2 separate regions of the Homo sapiens genome follow, and region 1 is linked to region 2. The links come from fine-mapping of genetic effects on gene expression. A gene starts in region 2. The other region holds a variant in brackets. All regions are shown on one strand. Distances are from middle to middle. Region 1 holds the start of LINC00396 (long intergenic non-protein coding RNA 396). Region 2 holds the start of LINC03082 (long intergenic non-protein coding RNA 3082).

Region 1 (8,332 bases), 73 kb after region 2:
AACAAAAAATCCTCCTTAAGTCTATAATTAAAATTATTTTATGAGCTATTTTCTACCTTTAAAGTAGATGCTATGCTAATGTTCTGCTGCTTCTGTGAGTGGCTCTCACCCTGGGAGCAGGAGTGAGGTGGGTAAGTGGATTAGTTTGGAATCCCCTCTCCAGAGAATTTGTTCCTCCCTCAGGAGAAGATGGTGGGCGTTTTAATGAGCTCCACATGGTGTATTCTCCAGGCTCTTCAATCTTTCAATAAAATGTTGCAAACCAGGGCTGGGCACCGTGGCTCACGCCTGTAATCCCAGCACTTTGGGAGGCCGAGGCGGGCGGATCACCATGTCAGGAGTTCGAGAGCGGCCTGACCAACATGGTGAAACCTCGTCTCTACTAAAAATACAAAAAAAATTAGTCAGGCCTGGTGGTGGGTGTCTGTAATCCCAGCTACTCGGGAGGCTGAAGCAGGAGAATCGCTTGAACCCACGGGGCGGAGGTTGCCGTGAGCCGAGATCGCGCCATTGCACTCCAGCCTGGGCAACAGAGCGAGACTCTGTCTCAAAAAAAAAAAAAAAAAAAAAGGTTGCAAACCAGTCATTGCTGATGGGCACACCTAAAATACTGCTTTATATTTTTAATTGCCTAAAATACTTTATAATTGATTTCTTATAAGAGGTGAGTCGGGTCATTGGTGGAGATAGTTATCCTATTTTTTCTTTATTCCACTTTCAACTTTTTTCGGGGATTGGAGTAGAAGAAATAAAGAAGTGCCAGGCCCAGGAAAGAAATTAACTGATGAGCTAAGTCTGGAAGTAGTGGATTGGAAGGTTGATTGAACTGTGACTACAAGCTGGAAATGCAAGAAAAAACGACTGGAGAGAGATTGCTCTTCTTATATTCCTATGAAGAATCACAGTCACCATTTGAAATCTTATTTATTAGGACGTGACATGCCATGGACTGGCTAGCTTAGGAACAGACTGTGAGCTCCAGGAGTCAGGAACTAGGTCCACCCCAGAGAAATCTACAACTTCCCAAATAGTCTGAATATGCTTTGCAGAGAAGAAAAATCTACATCATTTTCAAAACTCCCTTTGGATAAAAGGTTCACATCTGGCAAAATGAAAGAACTGTGATGACTGTATCATTTTTAAGAGGGAACAATAATGTAAAATTTAAGGTAAGGGGGTAAAATAAATTGCCAGTAACTATGGCAGATATCTTCCTTCAGTAGTGAAGTGCCTTCAGTAGTGCCTTCAATAGTGTAGTTGTGAATCAAAGTGTTACAAATATTAGTCAATATTATAATGCAGACTATTAAAGGGGGCTTCCATTTGAGACGGAGTCTTACTCTGTCACCTAAGCTGGAGTGTAGCGGCTCAATCTCTGCTCACTGCAACCTCCACCTCCCGGGTTCAAGTGATTCTCATGCCTCAGCCCCCCGAGTAGCTGGGATTACAGGCACGTGCCACTATGCCTGGCTATTTTTTTTTTTTGTATTTTTGATAGAGACGAGGTTTCACCATGTTGGCCAGGCTGGTCTTGAACTCCTGGCCTCAAGCAATCCACCTGCCTCAGCCTCCCAAAGTTCTGGGATTACAGGCATGTGCCTGTAAGTATTATATTAATATTTATCTTTATATCCTAACTAATAGTAGTGGGTATCCCATTTAACAAGGGATTCTACTAAAAATATCATATTCAGTAGTCTCTTTTCACCCTTAATGACCTTTCAAGCCAAGACATTTCTCAAAATTCAGAGCTGTTAAAATATATCAGTATGTTAATATACTTTCAATATCTGTTTTATTGTTTTAATTTTTTAAAATTTTAAGTTAGTTTTTTATTACAAAAGTAATGTATGTATGCTTATGGACAAAGTTTCAAATGTTACTGAATGGCACAAAGTGAAAAGCAACATTTCTTTCTGAATCCCTGCCTTGTCCCTACAAGCTCACCACTCTGGACATTTTTTGGTGAGCATCCTTCCAGAAATGTTTACTCAAATGCTATTCTACTTCTGCAATTTGCTCCCTGCCTTCACGGAATATTACTTGGACCATTTTCCATGTCAGCAAATATATGTCTACCTCATTCTTTTAAAAGACCGTGTGCTGTTTGGGAGGACATTCTATAATAATTTTAACAGACATCTATTTGTGAACACTTAGCTTCCTTCCAACTGTTTTTCCAGCTTCAGGAAATTGCTGCAGGGAACATTGTACAACATATACCTGCAGCCTTGATCAAGTATTAAGTACATTTCTGGAAGTGGAATCACTAGTATAAGGGGGGCTTGCATTTTGAATCACTGATTGCTACTGTAAAAATGCCCTGCACGGAGGCTGTAGCCAATTCCACTCAAGTGAAAGGATGTTTGTTTATTCCTGGCCTCACTGAAAATTACCAAGCTCTTTATCTCGTTTTTTGTCTAGCAGGTAAAAACCTATGTCTTCTTTTTATTTAAAGTTCCTTTATAATTATATGTTAAATGTGTACATATTTTAATGTTTGTCTGTGTTTTTAAACTTTACTTATTTTTATGTAAGGTGATTTAAGTTTTTTTCTTCTGTCAATTTGTGAGTAGTATTTGCATAGTAAGGAAATTGGGTCTTGATATGTTTTCTATGTTGTAAATATTTTTAAGTGGATTTTTAATTTGTTTATGGTATTTTAAAAGCATGCATTAGTTTAATTTGTTTGATGTTTGCATAGTCATATATGCTAATCATGTTCTTCCTGACTTCTGGGAGATGATGTATTTTTAAAGCTACTTTGATTCTGTTCTCCCACTCTTTTCTCTTGCTATGTTGGTCATACTTTTTATTTGCAAGAGAAAGAAAAAAGGTTTTTGCTGATTTTTTCCTTCAATTCTTTATCTCATCAAGGACAATTTTAAGGGGTATCATAGCCCTGCCGTACGCCAGAGGGGTGCAGTGAACTAAGGCTTTGCGTGTGCTGAGGACAGGATTACTTTGTTGAGATCCTCGCATGCATATATGATCACAGCCCAGGAGGGCAGTACAGCCAGGCGGCAGGTGAGGGCAGCCCAGGGCTTGGGAGATTCCTACATTTCAGGATGGCTTTGGTGTCTGCAGGTCACATATAATTTAATGTTTTCAGTTACACTGTATCAACTTTAAAAATAATTCGGTGAGGGAAGGAACCTCGATCTTGGCATCCTGGGGTTCTGGGTTCTGACCTCTGTCCTGGCATCCCGAAGGGTCTGATGATGTTTGCTGGATGTGTGGCAGCTCCAGGGCTCGGCTGCCTCTTTTTGGTTATTTGGTTTCTTGTTCCTCCCAGTGACTGAAAACCCCTCCCTCCCTGGCTTTTTATAGAAGCTAAGAAAAGAGCTTATTTTGTGACTGCATCCGGACCTTGAGTTCTTTGGCTCTTGTGTGAGTGGATGGTGACACCAGGCCAGCTGGGGATTCTTCCCAGGCTGGGCTCACAGGCTGGGGCTGGGCACACGGAGCAGCTGCGGGAAAAGGATCTGGACACCAGCCCCCCAGCGTGTCACCGGCAGGAAGGTGAGGTGGGAACAGAGTGACGTCCATGCATGTTCAGGTGAGGCCTTTGTCTTTTCTTTGCTTGCGCAGTGGGACTTCATGCTTTAACTTGCATC[G/A]GGTGACCAGAAAATGGCAGAGGAGCCCCACCCTGGGCAGTGATTTTAATATTACGATGACATTCAAATGAGGAGAAAGGCGTGAGGGTCAGGCTGCAGTCCCTCTGGTCTTCAGGCAGCTGGACCTGGTCAGGTCCTTATAGGGAATGCCAGAGTCCTGTTTCAGTGACCTCAGAAGGCATCACTCAAAGAGATAGATAGGTCCTTCCTTGTATGGTCAGGAATTCAGCCTGGTCAGCAGATTTAGGAGCACCTCCACCCCTTCCTGCTCCGTGACTCAGTCTACTTGTTAAGGGGTGCAAGTGGGGGAGGGAACGTGCCCGGATGTGTGAGGGCCATCAGGACCTGTGTTGCTTTGTCACATGTCTGCAGGACCCAGTCTCTTTCCTCTCCTGCCTCAATTTGACAGAAAATCAAGACACCTAAGAAATTTGGGATGAAATGTTGTTACGGAAAAAGTGAGGGATGACAGTCCATGAACATGACTTTAGGGACAATAAGGGGTCTAAAAATATCCGACGAAGAACAACATCTCATCCATTTGAAAAGTGAAAAGTGGAATCTTGTTTGAATTTGTATTTCTTTGATGACTGCCAAGGGTAAATATTCTTTCCTTCCTTCCTTTCTCCTTCCTTTCCTTCCTTTCCTTCCTTCCTTCCTTCTTTGAAACAGGGTCTCGCTCTGTTGCCCAGGCTGGAGTGCAGTGGTGCCATCATGACTCAATGCAGCCTTGACCTCCTGTGCTCAAGTGATCCTTCCAGCTCACCCTCCCCAGTAGCTGGGACTACAGGCGTACACCACCATGCCCAGCTACTTAAATTTTTTCTTTTTTTTTTTAGAGACAAGGTTTCCCTACGTTGCCCAGACTGGTCTTGAACTCCTAGCCTCAAGCAGTCCTTCTGCCTCAGCCTCCCAATGTGCTGGGATTACAGGCATGAGCCACTGCACTTGACCAAGGGTAAATATTTTCTGTACGTTAATTACCTTCTGTATTTTTTGCCATGAAACTTAAAACCAATCCCTTTAAAACTTGTTTATATGGATGCCTCCATAAGCAATTCTTTACGTGTATTTAATCAAGCACGGATCTAGGTGTTGCTGTGAAAGTATTCTACAGATGTGCTCAGTCTCTGCAATCAGTTAACTTGAAGTAAAGGAGATTACACTCTGTAATGTGGGTGGGCCTCACCCAGCCAGCCATAGGCCTTACTGTTAAAGACAGAGGTTTCCATAGAGGAAGACGTTCCACCTCAACATGGCAGCACTGGCTCCTGCCTCAGTTTCCAGCTGCTGACCTGCACCACTGATTTTGGATTCGGCCGCCGCACAATCGCATGGCAAATTTCTTAAAATTGTCCTCTCTCTCATCTCCTGTTGGTTCTGTTTTTCTGGAGAAACCTGACTGATACAGTAATGGACAAGATCAGCAGCTGCGTGGAGCCCTATGTCTGAGCTAGGGATGAGGCCTTCGGAATGTCCTTCAGTGTTGACACTAAAACACATCTGCTATTTCTCTCTCATATCATCATTATCAACCAGCAGATCGCCTTGCTCAGAAGAACACTCTAGCTCTGTCATTGTTTTATAAGCTCAAAGAACAAAGAGCTGCCAGTATCTTAACCCCTCCCAAATCTAAATTAAAGGCACCATTGGAAAAGAAAAATGACCTAGATAGAGAAGAAGGGCAAGTACAGTAATTCACAACACCTTGTGCAGAGGCGAACATCTATGCTGACACAGACAAGCTCCTGGAATGCCCCGTTGTGGTGAGACTGTGGTTTCCTCACTGAGCAGGGTTTTCATCTAAAGACTGCCCTGACCCAACAGAGCCTTGAAGCTGTTTGTTGTCTGCTGACTGTGGATCAGGCATCTTGCTGGGCGCTGCAGAGGGCACAACACAAGTAAGGCACATAGAGCTCACAGGCAATGCTTATTTTGGTAGAAACATGAGCAAAGGGTGTTTCTGCTTTATTTGTTTTGTTTTTGCAAGGATGAGAGAGGAATCCAACTAGGTGCATTTGTTCAGAATGCAGGCTAAGGGGGATTCGACAGTCACTATGAGACCAGGTAGGATGGGATAGGGATATGAAGTGGAAGGATGACAATGGAGTCAAATGGAAGGAATCGAATCTATTGCTTAGGCTCCTGTGGCTTCACAGTTTTCTTCAACTGTGTTGCCTACACACTTTATAATAAAATTAAAATTAAGATGATGGCAATCAAATAAGCAATTCACAAGGGCAGATCTTGTTCTGCTTCATTATCTGATTCACCTCTGAGGAGCTTCCTGAAAGCCTGAAAAAAAAGAAGAAAAAGGAAAACACAGTAAGTGACCAAACTTTTGTTTCCAGAAAGTAAGAAAATACTAATTAGGACCCATTTATGAGACACAACAGAGTACTGGTGCTGAAGTATCCCTCTCCACATCAACAAGTAGAAACTGAACAGAATGCATGAAGCACCTGTTTTCAGACACTGAGGACCACAGCCAAGGGTGGGATTCCTGGCGGGTGCGTGGGGTGTGCTCTGGGATTGCTGAGATGCTCTCTCTGGACTGTGGCATGAGCGGGTGGAGCCCATGTACAGCATGGTGGCCTCATGGAGTTGCGGACAGATGGTAGAGGTTGGGGTGTGTGAGGAGGTGGCAAGGTTTGCAGTGGGTGTCTGACAGGATCTGAAGAAATCTGCGGAGAGTCCCCTTGAGCCTCATGGAGAACAAAGAACACTTTGAGCAGAACGGAGAGTCCAGAGTAGCCCACGCAGAAGGTTGGGGAGACCGCACTGCACACCTGCATTCAACAGGGACACAGAACGGCACGCGCCGTGCACGGGTCTCTCTCAGCTGCCAGGTAGGGCTATGCGGGGACTTCTCCAGTTAAACTTACAGGGAAGCCTGCGAAAGTCAGCCAGTCCCACCGATAAATTCACTGCTGACCAAGCAAAACTCAGCAGCCCTTACATCTGACTGATGTCCATATGAGAGAAAAGAGAGGAGGACTTCAGAGACACCCACAGCTCCAACGACAGAGTGCAGCATTTCAGCAGGATGGCATCCTATAATGTTAAACGCACAATTAAAACAATCGCTAGAGGTGAAAAGAAGCAGGGAGATGAACACCATAACCAGGAGGGGAAAAGGTCAGTGGAGACCTACCTGGATGTAGTGGGAATGTGGGAATGAGCAGACGAGGACTTAAAGCAGCTGATATTTCAGAGACTTGAAGCAAAAGAGAAACAAAAAGGTGAATGGCTGGGGATTTTAACAAAAATTCCAAACTATTAAAAAGAATAAAACACAAATTCTAAAGCTGAGAAATATAATATGGGAAATAAAAAAATTTACTGGACTGGCTTACAACAGCTTGGATATGAGAGAAGAAAAGAATAGTGCCTTTGGATGCAGGGCAATAGAAATTATCCAAATGAAGAACAGGGAAAAACTGACAATAATTCTAGATGTGTGTGTGCCTGATAGCAGAGCTTGAAAATACACGAAGAAAATGGCATAACTGGTGGAGAAATAGACAAAATCCACCAAGACAATTCCATGGCTTCAACATTTCTCTTTCAGTGATTGGTAGAACCAACAGACCAAAATTTGGTGAGAATAAAGCATATTTGAACATCATGGCAGAAAGAAAGTAAGTTATTTTCAGAAATCATGCTGGAACTGGATATCCATGTGGAAAAAAGGAACCTCAACTTCCACTTCCTACTCACTGGGTTGACTTGTGTCCTCCAAAGGTTCACACCCACCTGGGACTTCAGAGAGTGACTATTTGGAATTAGAGGCTTTGCAGATGTAATTGAAGATCTTAAGATGACTCATCCTGAATTTCGGATGAATCCTAAATCCAGTGACTGATGTCCATATGAGAGAAAAGAGAGGAGGACTTCAGAGAAACACATAGGAAGAAACCCACTAAAATGGCTATTTTTTAAATTCTTATACTTTAAGTTCTGGGATACATGTGCAGAACGTGCAGGTTTGTTACATTAGGTATACACGTGCCATGGTGGTTTGCTGCACCCATAAACACGTCATCTACATTAGGTATTTCTCCTAATGCTATCCCTCTCCTAGCCGCCGACCCCCAACAGGCCCCCATGTGTGATGTTCCCCTCCCTGTGTCCGTATGTTCTCATTGTTTAACTCCCACTTATGAGTGAGAACATATGGTGTTTGGTTTTCTGTTCCTGTGTTAGTTTGCTGAGAATGATGGCTCCTAGCTTCATCCATGTCCCTGCAAAGGACATGAACTCATCCTTTTTTATGGCTGCATAGTGTTCCACGGTGTGCCACATTTTTTTTTATTATACTTTAAGTTCTAGGGTACATGTGCACAATGTGCAGGTTTGTTACATGTGTATACATGCGCCATGTTGGTGTGTTGCACCCATTAACTTGTCATTTACATTAGGTATATCTCCTAATGCTATCCCTCCCCCCTCCCCCCACCCCACAACAGGCTCCGGTGTGTGATGTTCCCCTTCCTGTGTCCAAGTGTTCTCATTGTTCAATTCCCACCTATGAGTGAGAACACGTGGTGTTTGGTTTTTTTGTCCTTGTAATAGTTTGCTGAGAATGATGGTTTCCAGCTTCATCCATGTCCCTACAATGGACATGAACTCATCATTTTTTATGAATGCATAGTATTCCATGGTGTATATGTGCCACATTTTCTTACTCCAGTCTATCATTGATGGACATTTGG
Region 2 (8,332 bases):
TTATATCTGGCATTGGCTGGGGGGCCGGAGGCATATCCTGCTCATCGCCCTGCAGCACAGCCTCTTCCTGTGGTGCCACACAGTCAGAGTTCCCAAGAGCAGCAAGAGAGAGGCCTCAGTGCAAAAGCACTTAGCCTCTGCTGATGTCACATGTGCTGATGCTTCCTTGGCCAAAGGAAAGCACATGGCCAAGCCCAGATTCAGGGCTTGGTACCATGAACTCTACCTCTTGAGGTGGGGACAGGGGCCACAAAGTCACATTGCAAAGGGATGCGAATATAGGCGCAGAAATAATATACTGTTTTTCTTTTTATTTGCCATAATATACTTATGTGATATCCTTATCTGCCATAATATCCTTAACATAATGTTAAAGATTGATCATATATTCCTAAGAGAGAAATAGGATCGTATAATTCTAACCTGTCACAATATTATTGACATTTTACTGGACTTTCTAGACATAAAATGAAATTCTAATTCCCAAGAGCTTTTCCCCCAGTATTTAACATTCTTTTCTGGGCTAGATTTTTCGCCGGTCTCCCCTCTCCTTTACTACCAGGTTATTGAAGCTGTTCTTTTAAAACTACAAGGAAGAAGAAACAGAGCGCTCCCGGGAAATGTTGAAAAAGCAGAGCCCCATTCATCACAGCACAGGTTGAAGAGACCAGCTCTCCCCGATATTGGCAGAATTTCCATCACAGGTGAGGGTGTGTGTCCTACAACCCCAGCATTTAACTAAAAAGCAATTCTGTGTATGAGCTTCACGAAAAGGCAGAAATGAAGCAGTGCCCATAGGGTCTCCCTCCCTCGCCCTGCCTTCTCCTTTTAAATGCAGCTCTCTCCTTCCTGGGCCAGGATGATGTGGAACCGTTGCATGCGAGGGTTTCTAAGGGGGCGTTGTGAGGAGTCATCATCAGCAACCAATACTGCCGTTCTCACCAGTGTGAAACAGGCAGCCCCACCCCAGGGGCAGGCCCTCTTCCCCTGTGCCCTGGCCTCCCTGGCTCCAGGCATCCTGACTCCAGCCGAGAGCCCCCACCCTTTGCTGAGCTCTGAGTCCTGTCCAGCTGAGCTCCCTGGGGGCCTGTGAGTTTCTGCCTCTTTTCCTGCAGCCTCCTGTGCACTGGCAGGTGGCATCTCTGCCACTCTCCTTAGAGATGAGCCTACACACTCATTTTCTCTTTTTTTCTCTGGACAAAGGAATAAGCTTTTGAAAAGCAAACTGACAGATGAGAGCAGTGAAATCCACTGAGTGGGCCGTGGAGAACAGCTGTGTTTGAGAGGCATCTCAGCGATGTGAATGAGGCCAGGAGGAGCCATGAAGACGGCACTGCCTGTGGGGCCCCCGATAAATGATGGCACTGAGCAATTGGCAGGACTGTGGGCATGGGAGGGGTCCCTAGGCCCCACCCCCCTCTGCTCCTGTTTGTGTAATTAACAGCCCGCTTCCTATCAGGTGCTCTGCCTTCAGTGCTCTCTGCTGCGGCTCTTACCAGCGAGGACTGGAGGGGCGGCTCCTTTACCTGCCCTGTCCTGGTTTTTGCTCCCGCCTGCCCCGTGAGCCAGGGGATGCACTCACAGCTGCTCTTTTTGATGTATAAAGTGTGTTTGAACATTATGCCAAATATCAAAATGTGAAGGACTAATCCAGGATGCAAAAACGTTATGGGGGGTTGTAAATACGAACTATACAACAGTTTAGGATGCAATTATGAGTGTAAACTGTGTGCCTTATTTATACTTCATTGTCTCCAGCTTCTCAGATAAAGTTTTGATGTGTTGTACAGTGGAATATCTTAGATACTTTTTGGAAAGTTTTTACATAAGTTATATCACAATTAAAATGTTGAATTTCAAAAAAAAAAAGAGGCATTCGTTTGAGATTGCCTGGGGTCCTGTGGTTTGCTGAATAAGACTCAGTGTGGGGAACTGTAGACTCTTCCTGAGAAGCTCAATTCCAAAAGGAAAAGGAAAATGCCGACTGGGATTCCCTGACAGGCATTGGTTAGCTGCTGTCTCTGTCCACTGATAACTGGAGCTTTCAGAAAGGCATCCTCTGCAGCCCAGCATCAGCTTCTCCGCCTGCTGTTCCCTCCGGGAGGCGGCCCGCACCTCAGAAGCAGACACCGTTGTGCCTGGGTCCGGTGGCGTCTGGCCAACAGGGGCTGGATGGGGGGCAACAGCAGCAGGAGGAGGACAGAGGAGGTGTTTACTCAGGGTCTCCTGTTAGGGTGCTGTGGGGTGTTGGGTTTCTCTGCTGGAAGCTGCAGCTCTGGTCACCACCTTCTCAAACTATAGGGCTGCCCACCGGGCATGGTGGCTCACGCCTGCAATCCCAGCACTTTGGGAGGCCGAGGTGGGTGGATCACCTGAGGTCGGGAGTTCGAGACCAGCCTGACCAACCTGGAGAAACCCCATCTCTACTAAAAATACACAATTAGCCGTGTATGGTGACACATGCCTGTAATCCCAGCTACTCGGGAGGCTGAAGCAGGAGAATCGCTTGAACCCGGGAGGTGGAGCCTCCTCCCATCTGCCCCCTCCCTTGGGCTTTCTGGAGGGATGGACAAAGTACAGTATTAAGGCTACTGCTTCTCTCTGTGCAAACAGCCCTCTTCCCATTTTAGGAAGGGAGTTGTCTATGCTGGAGAGACCCCCATGAACCAAGGAGCAGCTCAAAGCGAGCTTCCATGTCCTTCCAGGGGTCTGCGGATCTTCTGCTACTCTTTTAGCATCTCTGCTCTCCTCCCCTTCCCAGGCTCTGATAGAACCCTGAGGGCCTCACTTCCCTTGCTCCTGGACTTGCAACTAGGAATACATTTAAAAAGTCTCCTCCAGAGGAGCACAATTCCAGCTAAGCCGTTTGTTGTTGCTGTGAGCCGAGATCACGCCATTGCACTCCAGCCTGGGCAACAAGACTGAAACTCCACCTCAAACAAAACAAAACAAAACAAAACAAAACAAAACAAAACAAAACACTATGGGGCTGCCCTCCAGGGCCATGGATAAGACTTCTTCCCCCTCTCTGCAGCCCTGAGGCTGGTGACCCCTGGTTTAGTGGACTAAACATTACTGCTTTTCCTAAACTCTGCCCCTATCTTGGTAAAATGTCCCTTCATCCTAAGGTCCTTAATGTCAGCTGTTCGCTGCAGCATCCTGACTAATGCACAGCTGAGAGGCAGTCAGAAGCCAGCAACAATGAGGGTGATTTTAAAAGACCATGACGAATGTGTACACAGAATACTCAGTGGCCCCAATCCCATACAGGTGCTGAAGGTGGGCTACGAACTGCACACTAAGGTTCTGTAGGGAAATGAATTAGGATTGGTGGTAGATTTTCCACTGAATCTTCTTGTAATACAGTTCTCTAAGTGCTTCCCTGTACCCACAGTTCTAAATGATCTTCAGTGGAGCGTATTTGTCTGTGTGTGTGCGTGGGTGCCTTAATACTTCTGGAAGCATCCTCTTAACCCACTGTTTTCATTTATACACATATCACCTGTTTCATGGCTAGGACTTGGTAGGATTAGACATACATGGGCCAAAGGTAACTTCAGTCAGACCCTGTTTAATTATAAAATGGCAGAGTAAAATAGATCTAATATGTCAAGGGACACACCTTAAAGCTTATCCAGCCTGAAGAACATTAATGGTAAGTAGAAACAAGCGAACAAAGAAAACCTTTTGAAGTGGCAACAGAGGGGAGGGGTGGGTGCTGGCTCCTACTGAGTTGAGGACAGAGCCATTCCTCTCACTGATGTGCTTCTTCCCTGGAGGTGAGTGTGGGGTGCATGTGGGTGTGCGTGGGGTGGATCCCATGCTGGTGCCAGGACTGCCAAAGTGTGCGTTGGTGGGAAAGAGAAGGAAGGGAGAGCAGGATCCAGTGTCCATTGTGCTGATTTTTTGTGGACACAGAAATGAGAAGGCAGAGAAGATGTCCAAGTCTTCTGTAGGAGAGCTCACCCTCTCCTGGGTAGTTAAGGTCAACCACACTGCATCCGGATCCTGCCAGGAACTTGGAACGCCCAGAGGGCTGGCAGCGACGCAGTGCTGGACATTCCCACCCCACCCGGGCTGCTGCGCTGGGGGCAGCCGGATCCACAGAGATGCAGAAGATGTTGTGGGAAGAGACCATGGGAGAGCCACAGAAGCAGAAGCGCCTCCCTCCCCACTCCCTGCACACCCACCCCCTAAGCTGGGAGCGCCCAACATGCAGCCAGAAAAAAAAAAATCGTTGAAGGCCGGTTCACATCTACTGCCTAGAGAGCAAATCCTCACTGATGTCAATTTCACGTATATGGAAGTGAATATATTCACTTCCTAGGCTGCTGAAACGAAGTGCCACAAACTGCCTGGCTGAAAATAACAGGAATTTGTGTCTCACCATTCTGGAGGCTGGAATTCTACGATCAAGGTGATGTCAAGGCCAGACTGTCTCTGAGGCTCGGGGTAGAAGCTGTCCTGCCTCTTCCCGGTTTCCGGTGGGGCCAGCGGTGCTCGCGGATGCTCCTGCAGGCTTGTACATGCGTCGTCACAACCTCCGCCTTCAGCCACACCCCGTGTTCTTCTTGTGTGTCTCGGTCTTCACGTGGCGTGCCTCTTTTTTATAAGGACAGTGGTTTTATTGGATGCGGGGCCCACCCCATTCCAATGTGACCTCGTTCTAATTAATTACATCTGCAAGGACCTTATTTCCAAATAAGGTGACATTCTGAGGTCCTGGGGGTTAGGACTTCAACATCATTTTTGGAGAAAACCATTCGACCTTTGACAATGCCCAAGTAAAACGGTTTCATTTTTAGCGAGTGGACGTTCGAGTTCTCTATTTGAGGCATTTTTCTCAAGGATTTCTAACAATAGCTCACGTTATAGGTTGCGTTTATTTTTCACCATAATGATTTTTAAAATGTCAAAGCCTTGGCCCAACGACATGGGTGAGTTTGTTTTTATTGTTAGAAAGGATTCTATGCTGCTTTCAAATGTCTGCAGGTTTATTTTTAGCTGGACAGGAAGTGCATCTTACGCTTATGTTGGTTTGTAGGCTGCCCCCTTTTTTGGAGGAATGTTATTGTTAGAAAACCACGTTCAGTTTGGAGATGAGTTTGGATTGAGCACCACGCAAATCTAAGTTATAATTATACTACTCTCCGCTATAGATTTTCCAAAATAATCTTTCTGTTCATCAGAATTTGAAACCTTTCAAATAATGGTTCCGTTTGTTATTCACAATTTCACAGCCCAGCAGCTGCCTTTTATTTGTCTTTAAATGAAAGGTCAAGAGGTTTTGATGTAACCTGGGGTTGAATTGAAGGTAGCATGTCCATGTAGTGAGATGTAAAGTGAAAAATAAAAAAAAAAAAACATAAAAATGCTATGTCGTGACCACAAGATACCAGAATCATTCTTATTTGTTATGACTAAACATCCAGTTATTTCAAAGGGAGGGAAATAGTTCAATCCAGAGCTTACCTAAATTTTTCATTGTTTCAGCAAAGGGGCTTGTGATTTGGGGGAAGTTTAGTTCTTAAGTAGAGGACCTTTCCATCAGACAAGCTGCTTGTATTTGTTGCTGGTGCCACGGATAAGCTAGTATTTCAGAAGAGAGCAAGGTAATCCCATCCTAATGCCGTAATGAGGGTCACAGTGAGGTACGGGAAACGGTGGGACTTTCCACCTAAAAATATCTGCCAGCAGTTATATTGTCAGTTGGCTGTGATCTCCACCTCCAGCAGTGAACCTTCGGGGAGGAGGTTCTTTGACCTTCCTTGGTGTGATTGCCTGGGGAAAGTGATCATTTCATGGAATCGTGTCTGTTTCTCCATCCTCTTCTTTGAGGGACTTCTGAATGAATAAGGTATCACTCTCACACCCCAAACCAACACTTTAACCCTCTGTTGAAATACTATTTAAAGGATGGTTGCATGAGGATGGATTCTATTTTTGCCTGTGACCAAACACAATGAGTCTTAAAAAATAGCCTAGATTTCTTTCTGCTTTGCCTTGAGTGATGATTACAAACACCCCAGCCTTCCACGTTGGTAAGGGCCACTCTCAGGTTCACTAGTATATCTGATGGTGACCACTTACTAAGGTGCCTCCTGTGAGCCGGGCACATATCATGTGTGTGGCACGTCCCATCTCATTTACTCCTTACAACAGCCAGATGAGCTACAACACCCAGATGGTGCTCCCTATATCGCCTTTACAGAGAGGTGACATGGTGGTATGGAGGTAGCCAGGAAAAACCGCGCGGAGGCTCCGACCATCCATCTCTTTGCTTTAGGCCTGGGATCACTTGCAGATGAACCATCTGCCCCCTCCCTTGGGCTTTCTGGAGGGATGGACAAAGTACAGTATTAAGGCTACGCTTCTCTCTGTGCAAACAGCCCTCTTCCCATTTTAGGAAGGAAGCTCTTTATGCTGGAGAGACCCCCATGAACTAAGGAGCAGCTCAAAGCGAGCTTCCATGTCCTTCCAGGGGTCTGTGGATCTTCTGCTACTGCTTTAGCATCTCTGCTCTCCTCCCCTTCCCAGGCTCTGATAGAACCCTGAGGGCCTCACTTCCCTTGCTTCTGGACTTGCAACTAGGAATACATTTAAAAAGTCTCCTCCAGAGGAGCACAATTCCAGCTAAGCCAATCATCCATTCGAACCTTCATGTCTTGGGTTATCGGTTTTCTACTGCAAGGGACGCACCTCGTTCCTTGGAGGGTTACATGGGGTTTGTTGATGGTGTAATCAATTGCCCATGTGATTTGGAAAGACAAACTCGGCGGGTTGAAGCAGGATGTATCCTTCCACATTTTAATTGCTCCCAAGAATGATCAGATAATTGCCTTCCTTTGAAGGATCCATGAGAATGTGCTGAAGTGTCCCAGCAAAACAAAAGAGAGTCTCTGAGCGGCTTCTATTCTTGTCTGGCTCTGTTGACAGCGATTGAATGCTCTGGGGAAGAGAAAAGGCTGGCAGGGAGCCTGGGCCCAGAGGAACGTGAGGAGAGCTGGGCCCCCTCCGAGAGACGTTAGTGTGCTGTGCTCATTAGAAGGAGAATGTGCCACTTGTACTGCCTTCTGCTTACTGCCCCTCCTCCAGGGAGGACTTGTTGAAGGCATGAGAAAATATGAAGCCCGACCCCAGGGCTGGCAGCTGCCGCTGCACCGGAGAGCCTGCCTCCGGGAGCCAGGGACGGGCCGACCTGAGCACACACTTCCTTCCTAGCCTTGTTACAAACATTCCTGTGAGATGGGCAATTCTAAAAGGCTTGGCTGGCTTTAAATGGAGATTGTGAAAAGGCTTAAGCACTTTTGTGAAGTCAGATGTGACTCATCTCCTGCCTGTCCTTATGACCTGCTCGTCCAAACAAGTGGATGCATTGGTGAGAAAAGAAAAGGAAAGAAAAAGGAAAAAGGAAAGAAAAAGGAAAAAGAAAAGAAAATACAACCTCGGTATTTACTTTTTTGGTGGTTTCTATGCTTGATTGTCAAAATCCCTGTGGAGATTGGTCAAAGCAACAGTTTCTGGTGTGACCGGGGACCCTGGCTGCGTTCAGGTGCTGGTTTCTAATGGAGAAGATATTTCTTTTTGTGTCCAAGAGTCATGGGTTGGGTGGTCTGGGGGTGAGATGATGTCAGGGTTCAGGCCACAGGGTGTAAATGCAGAAGGACTTCGACATTGCGGACTCCAAAGTCCTACAGGCAGGCTGGGCACAGGCAGGCCCCAGCACAGTGCCTGAGACGGACCTCTGTGTCTTGAATGAGATCACCAGTCCTGGTGGGTATTTCAAGGTTGTTATAAAGTCAGGCAATGGGACCAAGACAGAAGCTTTGAGGACAGAAACAGTGGTTCTATGAGTAGTTCAGTAATGCAGAATCAGGGCCACAGGAAGCTCAGCTTCTGCAAGCTGGTGGCTGCCTCCGTAAAACATGGGTCTTTACAAGGCTCGTGGCCGCTGCAGTTATCTGGGGTGTGCACTGGCTTTTATTCTGATCACTTGTGAGTCTACCTGTCTCCCTGTGTATTTAGTTGCCCTTCTGTTGTAAAGGGTTTAGGGCTTGGGAAGGGCTGGATTCCTGCCCCCAAGTCCTCACCCCTCCCTTGGACTAGTGCCATTGGACTGTGCCTTGGTTGTGTCCATGGACAGTTGTGCATGTGAACAGGCTTGACCACGTGCCCGGTGCACCAAGACATAAGGGCACCAAGTGCATCTCCTCACACCTCTTGCTCTCCTGAGCTCTGTCAGGAGACAGTGTGTCTCAGGTGGCTTCCTGGCCGTGAGGCTGACAGGTGTGGAACACACCTGAACTGAGCCCAGCCGATCCACCCCTGCAGC

The links. PIP is the estimated chance that this variant, and not a neighbour inherited with it, causes the effect.
Region 1: its variant is fine-mapped to the expression of LINC03082 in aorta (GTEx, PIP above 0.99).

Annotation. Positions count from the first base shown.
Region 1 is chr13:110,052,353-110,060,684 of GRCh38, reverse strand. It overlaps LINC03082 (long intergenic non-protein coding RNA 3082), which reads left to right. Exons shown (of 3, transcript NR_187462.1): 2 at 4,457-4,575. It overlaps LINC00396 (long intergenic non-protein coding RNA 396), which reads right to left and starts at 7,400. Exons shown (of 4, transcript NR_126387.1): 1 at 7,374-7,400; 2 at 6,772-6,834; 3 at 6,503-6,671; 4 at 5,733-5,912. The variant G/A (reference allele first, on the strand shown) is at 3,618.
Region 2 is chr13:110,125,462-110,133,793 of GRCh38, reverse strand. It overlaps LINC03082 (long intergenic non-protein coding RNA 3082), which reads left to right and starts at 4,658. Exons shown (of 3, transcript NR_187462.1): 1 at 4,658-4,937. LOC101927712 (a long non-coding RNA gene) reads left to right here. Exons shown (of 3, transcript XR_931726.3): 2 at 594-704; 3 at 1,204-1,832. RefSeq lists enhancers at 6,080-6,887, 6,888-7,696.